Homo sapiens: one gene and its partner. The protein of the gene in region 1 purifies or fractionates together with the protein of each later gene. This does not show direct contact. Each region holds a gene or a part of one and is shown on either strand. Other genes may lie near its edges.

The links. The genes of interacting proteins can lie anywhere in the genome.
Region 2: the proteins of CPT1C (region 1) and PPM1F purify together in Homo sapiens (affinity purification with mass spectrometry; one large-scale study listed by BioGRID and IntAct). This does not show direct contact.

Annotation. Positions count from the first base shown.
Region 1 is NC_000019.10:49,688,798-49,694,495, reverse strand, and holds the start of CPT1C (palmitoyl thioesterase CPT1C), read right to left. Parts: upstream 3,381-5,698; 5' UTR 3,156-3,380; intron 3,001-3,155; exon of another isoform or gene 2,878-3,000; intron 2,836-2,877; exon of another isoform or gene 2,726-2,835; intron 2,676-2,725; 5' UTR 2,607-2,675; exon of another isoform or gene 2,543-2,606; intron 2,258-2,542; 5' UTR 2,244-2,257; coding exon 2,103-2,243; intron 1-2,102. Other genes in the region: ADM5 (putative adrenomedullin-5-like protein precursor), read right to left, coding at 4,003-4,390, 4,585-4,658. UniProt on the Homo sapiens protein: Palmitoyl thioesterase specifically expressed in the endoplasmic reticulum of neurons. Modulates the trafficking of the glutamate receptor, AMPAR, to plasma membrane through depalmitoylation of GRIA1.
Region 2 is NC_000022.11:21,918,925-21,922,368, forward strand, and holds the end of PPM1F (protein phosphatase 1F), read right to left. Parts: 3' UTR 501-3,444; downstream 1-500. UniProt on the Homo sapiens protein: Dephosphorylates and concomitantly deactivates CaM-kinase II activated upon autophosphorylation, and CaM-kinases IV and I activated upon phosphorylation by CaM-kinase kinase. Promotes apoptosis.

The DNA of each region.
Region 1 (5,698 bases):
CACCACACCCGGCTAATTTTTGTATTTTTAGTAGAGATGGGGTTTCACTATATTGGCCAGGCTGGTCTTGAACTCCTGACTTCGTGATCTGTCTGCCTTGGCTTCCCAAAGTGCTGGGATTACAGGCGTGAGCCACCGCACCTGGCCTGCCACCCCCTTATTTAACTGCAACACCCCCACATCACTCTTCTCTACCCGATTTATCATTCACCATAGCATGTGTCACCATCAATATCAGATGACACTATAGAATGTCACCATACCCTATATTTTGCTCATCTGTTTTATTGCCTTCTGTTTTGCTCATCTGTTTTATTGCCTTCTCCCCCAACTCGAATGAGAACTCTATAAAAGCAGGATTCTGTCTTTATTATTTATTTATTTATTTATTTATTTATTTATTTATTTTTTATTTTATTTTATTTTTTTTTGAGACGGAGTCTCGCTCTGTCGCCCAGGCTGGAGTGCAGTGGCGCCATCTTGGCTCACTGCAAGCTCCGCCTCCCGGATTCACGCCATTCTCCTGCCTCAGCCTCCTGAGTAATTGGAACTACAGGCACCCACTACCACACCAGGCTAATTTGTGTGTGTGTGTATTTTTAGTAGAAACGGGGTTTCACCGTGTTAGCCAGAAGGGTCTCGATCTCCTGACCTCATGATCCGTCCGTCTCAGCCTCCCAAAGTGTTGGGATTACAGGCATGAGCCACCGTGCCCGACCTGTCTTTATTTTTTTAATAGAGATGGGGTCTCCCTATGTTGTCCAGGCTGGTGTCCAAGTCCTGGGCTCAAGTGATCCTCCTGCCTCAGCCTCCCAAAGTGCTGGGATTAAAGCCGTGAGCCCGCAGTGCCCAGGCGTGATTCTGTCTGTTGATATCTGCTGTGTTCTCCATGCTAAAGAGGGCCAGGCCCTTACCGGATGCCCCATAAATATATGGTGAATGAATGAAGAACAATATCAGAAGCTAACACTCAGACCTCGCCATGGGCCAGGACATAGAAGAATTAATTTAGTCTTCAAGGCTATCCTGTGAGGGAGGTGCTGTCAACACCCATGTTTTCCACGAGGGGAAACTGCGACTCCAAGAGAGGTGCTTGCCCAAGATGACACAGCTACTAAGCGGTGGAGTCAGGATTCAAACTCAATCATGACCCCACAGGTGTTCCAGACCCCAGTTCACACACAGAGGATGTGACAAGCAGGGAGTCCCTGTATGGAGACAGTGCAAGAGTTCTAGAACCAGAAACCCTGGGACAGACATGGGTGCTGGTTACACATTGGGCATGCGCATTCCAGAACAGGGACAGAGCAGGAGTTTGGGCCGGGCGCGGTGGCTCATTCCTGTAACCCAAGCGCTTTGGGAGGCAGATCACTTGAGGTCAGGAGATCGAGATTAGCCTGGCCAACATGTTGAAACCCCGTCTCTACTAAAAATACAAAAATTAGCTGGGCGTATAATCCATGCCTGTAATCCCAGCTACTCGGGAGGCTGAGGCAGGAGAATCGCTTGAACCTGGGAGGTGGTTGCAGTGAGCCAAGATCACCCCACTGCATTCCAGTCTGGGCAACAGAGTGAGACTCTGTCTCATAAATAAATAAATAAATAAGCCAGGCATGGTGGCGTGCGCCAATAATCCCGGCTACCTGGGAGGCTGAGGCAGGGAATTGCTTGAACCCAGGAGGCGGAGGTTGCAGTGAGCTGAGATCCCGCCACTGCACTCCAGCCTGGGCGACAGAGTGAGACTGTGTCTCAGAAACAACAACTACAAAAGAAGCTGGAGATGAAAGGAAGAAATGATAATTTCACCATAAGGGAAGGATATGGAGTTCTAGAAACTGGAAGTGGGTAGTTTTTGGGGGGCCCAGTTCCCCTCTTGGGTGAAAGAAGTGAGCAGAGGTTCTCAGCAGGTGGGGCTGTGGATCCCAGAAGTGAGCCACGGAGAAATTGCTAAAGGGGTCCTGGGAGCAGACATCAAAATTCTAAGAAAAAGGGGTGATAGTCTCCCAGAAATGAACCAGCTGAAATGCCGGAAGTGAGCCTCAGACATCCCGGAAGCAGAAACCTGGATCCCCGGAAGGAAACCGACCAGCACCGCTCCTCACCCAGAAACGTGAGAGATGCCTTTTCCAGGAGCGCAGGCCAGAGAGGTAGATCTCCTGCAGCACAGGGGCACTGAGTTCCACTTCAGCCCCGTCCGAGGTCAGCGAGGGTCGGAAGCCCACGGCCTGGTGCGCTTCAGCCATGTCACGCTGGAGCCCTGAGTCGGGCAGAGTCATACTTCAGGACCCCAGCCCCTCCGCCCTCAGACTCAGGAGTCCAGGCCCCCAGCCCCTCCTCCTCCTTCATACCCAGGAGTCCAGGCCCCAGTCCCTCCTCTCTCAGATCCAGGAGTCCAGGCCCCCAGCCCCTCCTCCCTCAGACCCAGAAGCCCAGGCCCCAGCCCCTCCTCTCTCAGATCCAGGAGTCCAGGCCCCCAGCCCCTCCTCCCTCAGACCCAGAAGCCCAGGCCCCAGCCCCTCCTCCCTCAGACCCGGGATCTCACGCTTTCAGCTGCCTTTTTGCGCCGACCCAGGACTACATAACCTAGCTCATCCTTCTCTAAGCACCTGAAGGGTCTTGAGGGTCCTGGTTTGTAGACCCGGAGGTTTTGAGGGAAGGACGTCAATTCGGGACCTCTGGGAACGCATAGAGAGGCCAGAGGGATAGCTCGCGTTAACCCCTTTACCTGCTCTCCCAAGAACATGGTGCGGGGGCAGTGCCCTCCCCCCAGTACAGGATTCTCAAGATTCGGGGGTGGGTGGAGGAGGGAAACTGGTCCAGGCTGAGTTGCGGGGTCTTGAGAAAAGCATTAGTTTTAGACCCATATGAAACAAACACCTGTTAGACATTGACGCTGTCCACCCCATTGCCGCTTTTCATGCCAAGGCGAGGGGGATGGTGTCTATAAATTCATCCGCTCAGCGTCCCCTCCCCCCGCCCGTGCTGGAGGGAATGGGGAAGGAAGCACCCACTGCGCATGCCTCGCAGCCTGGGATGCTGAGGCTGTGAGCGGAGGCGAGCGTCGAGGACAAGTGATGGAGAGGCTTGCACGCCCAACCCTAGACACAGGACTCCAGGCCCCGCCGGAGCCCGAGCCCCTGGGGTCCAGTACTTACCACGTTGAATCAAGGGTCCGCTGATCGGATCCTGGGGTCCAAACCCGAGTCCACCCCCGCCCCCCGATTTTGAGCGCCGGCCCCAAATCTCCCGCTTGCATATGTCCAATCCCAGTGCAAGGAGTCCACCACCGGGTCGACGGGCCTTTGGAGTCCTGCCCACCCCGAGATCACCGTCACCCAGAAACCCCGATTCCTCTCTCTCGTGTCCCTAGCCGGGTATTCAGGTCCCGGGTTTTATCCCCGCCTCCTTCCAATCCCCGCGTTCTATCCCCGCCCCCTTCGAGCCACGGCGTCCAATCCCCTACATCCGTTCGATCCCCAGTCCTCCGTCTCCTTTTACCCGGCCAGATTCTCCACCATTTGGCCGCTCGCATTCTACGCAGCTGTTCGGAACCCGGGTTCCTGGGCTCCTCACTCAGCTCATTGTCTCTTAGTCTCCTGTCTCTTCGAGGAACAAGGCTCAGCTGGGAGGTCGCAGCCCACCCCAGGTGCATTATAACGTCAGGCGCGTAGGGTGCCGGAGCAAATCTCAGCCCTTTCACGCCAGGGAGGGAGGAGGGATGTTTGGGGGTCAGGACGGCCCGCCAAAACCACCCACGGAAGGTGCATGGATTGAGTTGGCAAGAAAGGCGCCACAGCGGGTTGGATTCAAGGTAGACAGTGGGACTTCCGTGAGGGAGAAGCAGCATGGCTAATAGAGAAAGGTATATTAGAGACCCAGCCTCGACTGAGAGGTCGAAATAGGTACAGAGAAGCAGAGACTGAAACACGGAACTCTTGTTTATTCGGCTCTGGGCGTCAGTGTTCTTCGCCCAGCCTGGTCCCGTGTGCTTCTAGGTCCAACCTAGTCGCAGCCCGGGGAGGGACTGGGGAAGACGGTTTCAGGGGCTGGAGTTAGGGGAGAAGAAATGTGGAGTAGAAGCTCCAACATACAGATAGGCAAACTGAAGCCGAGGAGGGGACGAGCCGTGCCCGAGGTCACCCAGCGAGCTGGGCACTGCGCTAGCCCCCTCGCTGCAGGCCGGAATCCTGGGAACCGAGCCGGGCTTCCGCCTCGCGCCACCGGCGGCGCCCATAGCTGTAGGGGTCCTGGGGCTCGTGGCTGGCCTTCCCCGAGGGCTCCTTGGTGGAGACAGCGAATCCAGTATATGATCTCCGCCAGGCGGTGGGTCCGGCATACGCCCAGGTAGCAGACGTGCCCGCGGTGCTGGGGGACCTGGTGCTGGCCTCGCCTGGAGAGGGAGCGTGGGAGAAAACCGGGTTCAAACCGAATTGAGAGATGGAGCGTGATGGAGGTGGGCACCCAAGCACTCCAAGACCAGCGGGGAGGCTTACAGATCACCTGCCCGTTCCGCGGCCGGGAGAGGGCGCTCGCCCTTTACGGTCTCCCTCCCGCCCTGTCCCTGCTGCCACCCGGGTTTCTCACCTGGCTGCAGTGTCCAGGTCCCCTTGGGCGGAGAAGGCGAGGAGCAACAGCAGGATGAGGATGTGGATAGTCATCGTGGGCAGGGCGGGTCAGGATCCGTGGCCCGTAGTTGCGGCCACCCCGCCCCGTTCCCGCACCGGGCTGATCGCCTCTGGGTGCAGCTCTGGAGCCAGGTACCAGGGCCAGTCCCCACTTCCCAGGCGGGGAACACTGAGGCCAAAAGTCTGTGGGAAGAGGCCGCACCACACCAGAGGGGCAGGATTCAAACCCGGGTCCCCGCTTCCCGCACCGCGGCTCCAGAGACCTCACTGGGTGTGTGGGGTCACACCAGCTGCTGTCTATCCCCCTAGGAGGTCTGTGGAGACTCGCCCCCTTCAAAGCGTGGGGAAATGGGGCGGGGCCAATGACACCCGCAGGTAGCTAAGCAGCGGGATTCCAAGAAAAGGGGTGGCGGCGGGGAAGCGCTGGCTCTGGTTGTAGATGCGACCTCACCCTCACCCTGTCGGGAAGCCGGTTAGTAGACAGTTGGGACCCTGGAACCTCGGGGGCCAGGCAATGCAGGGCAAGTGCACATGCGGCCCCCTGGAGGGCGTGGAGCGAGGGAGACCCCAAACACACTGAGGAGCGCCCCTCCGGAAGAGAAAAGGCCGAGGTGTCAGGCACTCGCCGGTGAGGGCTCCAGTTGCACTGAAGCAGGTGTAGCCAGGGCTGTTCAACGAGGAGGGTGTCCTGGGTCAACCAGGTCGAGTGCACAGTATTGTGGGGGACCCAGGACCCCGTGGCCAGGCCCTGAGGGTGGAAGGGTGGGTGCAGACGCCATGTCTGCAGCAGAGGCAGAGGGACCTCGTCTTCACCTCTGTAAGATGGGTAGGCCCTGCCACCTTACAGCTGCAACTCCCACTGACCTCCATGGAGGGCAAGTCCCCAGCCCTAAGCCCCAAGCCATTCTAGGGGAGGAAGCAGGGCCACTCCCCCATGAGAAATTCTATCCTTGCAAACATACACCCCCAACCCACTCAGTGTCCCCAGCTGCAGAGGGCTGGGCACAGTTGGGCCTTGAAGGGACCCGAACAGGAAAAAACAGCCAGAGAGGAACAATGTCGAGTGTTGGGGG
Region 2 (3,444 bases), on another chromosome or scaffold:
GGCTGGTCTCAAACTCCTGAGCGCAAGAGATCCTCCCACCTCAGCCTCCCAAAGTGCTGGGATTACAGGTGTGCGCCACCACACCTGGCCTCAGGAGGTGCCAGGAGGGTATAAATGGTGGGCCTCAAGAGCGTCATGTCAGAGGGTCTCCATCCTCAGGATGGAACCTCCTGGGGCACATCAGGCTCCTGGATAAAATGAGGGGTCCTCAATGCTCCTGTGGCTCCCCAATGTCATGTGAGGTCCCAGGGGCTTAATCCCTTTCCTGTCACCTTCCTGCTGCTGGTGGGGGTGGGCTCAGAGCCCCTCAGGGAGGAAAATCAGGTTGCTGGCTAGACCAGGAGGGTGTAGGCCACCAGGGCTCTCTCCAGAATTTGTCTGCTCGCTTCGCAAGATTTGCAGATGGTCCCCAATATTAAAGCAGCTTCCAAACACATCTGGACATCAAAGGGGACAAGATGCTCAGAAGTCAGGAAGAAGGCAGGACTCGGGCGACAGAGTTCAGAACTTGTGGTTTATTGACACTTCTGCATGGTGGGTCCTTGGGAGACTGCCTTTCTGGCATCTTGGGACTTGTCCCTAAGAATAGGGAAGACAGTCATCCTGTCCTGGAGCAAAGCTCCCCCTTGCACAGGAACACAACTCCCATGCAGGAGAAGCCCACCGAGACGAACGCAGATAAACCCTTCGCAAGGCCTGCACTGCACCGGAATGGCAGAGCTCCGTGCATTTGGCAAAGCTATGGAGCCTTGGCAGAATGCACAGGACTCTGGGGGCTGCCCCCCTTGAGCTACAGAGGCAGAATCGAACCAAAAACACTGCTTCCTTTAACACAGCCCAACTGGCTTACATTTAGCTTGGGACGAGGCTAGGCCTAAGAAGGGCCAGAGCTGTCCTCCCAGCCCTGGGAACACGGCTGAGACGGCCCGGTGCCCACGCTGGGCTCACCATAGGAGAGGAGAGGAGAGGGAGGGGGCCCCATACTGGCCCTGCCGTCTGCACCCCGTCCCTTTCCCCACTAAACACACCCATTTCCTATCCTGGGTTCTGAGGCTGGGACTGCCTCTGGGATTCTGAGGGACTGCCCTCCACCCCTGCAGGCCTGGGCTCAGAGTCAGCCACACCTGTAAGGCAGGCCCTGCTTCCCCAGCTTTTGTATTCCATATACGGTGCTGGCATGTGGAGCTCCATTCTTCTCCAGCCCACTTAATTTTAAGAATAGACACTAATAAGACTTAACCACCCCAACCTGCTGGCAGCAGGAGGGCCCCTGTGTGCTGGCAGCATCTCCCCAGGACACGCCGGCTCACCTGCACCCACAGCGTTCTAGGAGGTCGCGGCCTCTGCAGACTCAGTGCAACCCCTGGGCCTTACAAAAGGGACACTCAGAGGTGCACTGCCTGCTCAGCTCACACAAGGAACAAGTGGAGAGCTGGGCTGGAGAAAGGATTACAATTTACAGACCAGTGTCCCTGGCTAGGGGCCCTCATGGGACTGTGGCTGGAAGAGAAGGTCGCCCCGGAGGTTGGAGGCTGAAGACACCTGGTGCTTCTTGGTGCAGTCCTGGTCAAGATGGAAGAGCGCTCCTCTGTGCCCAGCTGCTGTGCAGGGGTGGACGAGGGCTCCCTCGGCCCCAAGGCAAGGGCGGAGCAGCTCCCAGTGCTGGCACCAGACCTCTGCCAGGCACGGGGCATGGCCATCCTCTGGGGTCCTGGCTCAGGGGTGGGGAGCGGCAGTGCTGGGACAAGCCTGGGGAAAGGGTTTCCCATACACTGAGGCTGCGAGATCTTCCAGTGGAGCCTCAGGCTAGGGTATGAATCAGACCACCAGGTGATAGGAGCCAAACCTCCACATGGTGAAACTTCACTCTCGGCAGCCAGGAACAGAATTATTAGCAAAGAAAAGAGAAAAGCAGATGCCAATCATTCTCTCTCTTCGTCAAGGTTATGCCCACGGGCAGGGTGGGCTAGTGGTGAGGGTGGAGCTGCGTCCCTGACCCCCAGAAGGAGACAGCAGGCCTTCAAGTTAAGCCAAGCAATACTTGGTCATTGTTTGTGGCCAACCATTCTCTGAATGTCTGAATGACAGCGACTATGTTTAAGGTTTTTTTTTGTAAATAAGAGACCTTAAGCAATGCATTGACTGCATGGTCTCAACCTCATCTGTGCTGTGAGAATGAGGGGTAAGGCTGGGCATGCAGGTAGGGCCCCAGCAAAGCTGGCTCCCCGCTCCCTGTGGGACAGAGGGCTCCCACCGGGAAGGCGGCTCTAGCGTGCCTCCTCGGCGAGCTGAGAGGAGGCCAAGGTGCTTGGGGCACAGCTGTGCAAACCTTCCTGGGGCTCTCGCTGTCTGCAGGTGGACTCTGAATGCCTTCATGGGGACCACACAGCCCAGCTTCCTCCCTTTCTCCTCTCCTCCCCCTGCACTGCTCTGACCTGCCTGGAGCAGCCCTGCCCACCTCCAGCTCAGCCCTTCCTGTGGCTTGGCCCTGCAGATGGCCTCTGAGTCCTCCCCTAGCCCCCTGCCCTCTTCCCTCTACCCGACACCCTCCCCCAGCCTTGCCACTTTCAACTTTGCACGCCCTCAGTGAGCTCCCTGAGGCACCCAGGATCGGTCACTTGTGAGCCCCCTCTCAGGGTGCACTAGGGGACGTGGAGCTCTCATGCCTGTTCAGGGCATGGGGCAGAGCAAGGCAGGCGTGCTGCCAGCCACCGCGGCAAGGTGAGGGGCTGTGGCCTGTGCCATGGACTCCCAGCAGCATCCCTGCTGCCTCCAGACTGAGACAGAGACCCACGGGCTGCCTCTGTGCTTGCCTGAGCCTCTTAATTAAGAGTCTTTCCCAATGAGACCAATTTGATTACAAATTCACAAGATATTTGGGAATGTTCCAATCACACAGCAGCAAGGTCCCTCTGCCTGGGATCCAGCCAGGCCCAAGGGGGTGGGAATGCAGGCAGATGGGCCAAGGTCACCCGGGATGCCCAGAGCCCCGCTGTCGGGCCCAGGCACCACTACGTGGCAGTCGCAGCTCCTGCCAGTCACCTGGGCAGCGGGGGGAGGGGAGAACCTTGGGGGTGTTCAGCATCACAAAGAGGCGGAAAACTCTTCCAGAAAGATCTCACCAAAATCATGCCTCCCTAACAAAACAAATCCTGCTTTTCTAAAAACCTCAATGGGCCTATCCGAGCCCACTGCAGTCCTAGTTTCTTCAAAGCTGTGTAAGGCACTTGAATGGCTTATTAACACCACCTGGAAAAGTTCCTGTTTCAATCCTGATTTAGAAAATAAATTCAATAATACTGCAAAAAAAGGTTCCTTGAAAAATAGCTTTAAAAAAGTAAATACTTAAGTTTTCTAAAGAATAAAATAAATGCTAAGCTCTGCTTAAATTATATGACACAACAGGTCATCTTGGCACTGATAAAACAAAGAGAAAACCTGGAA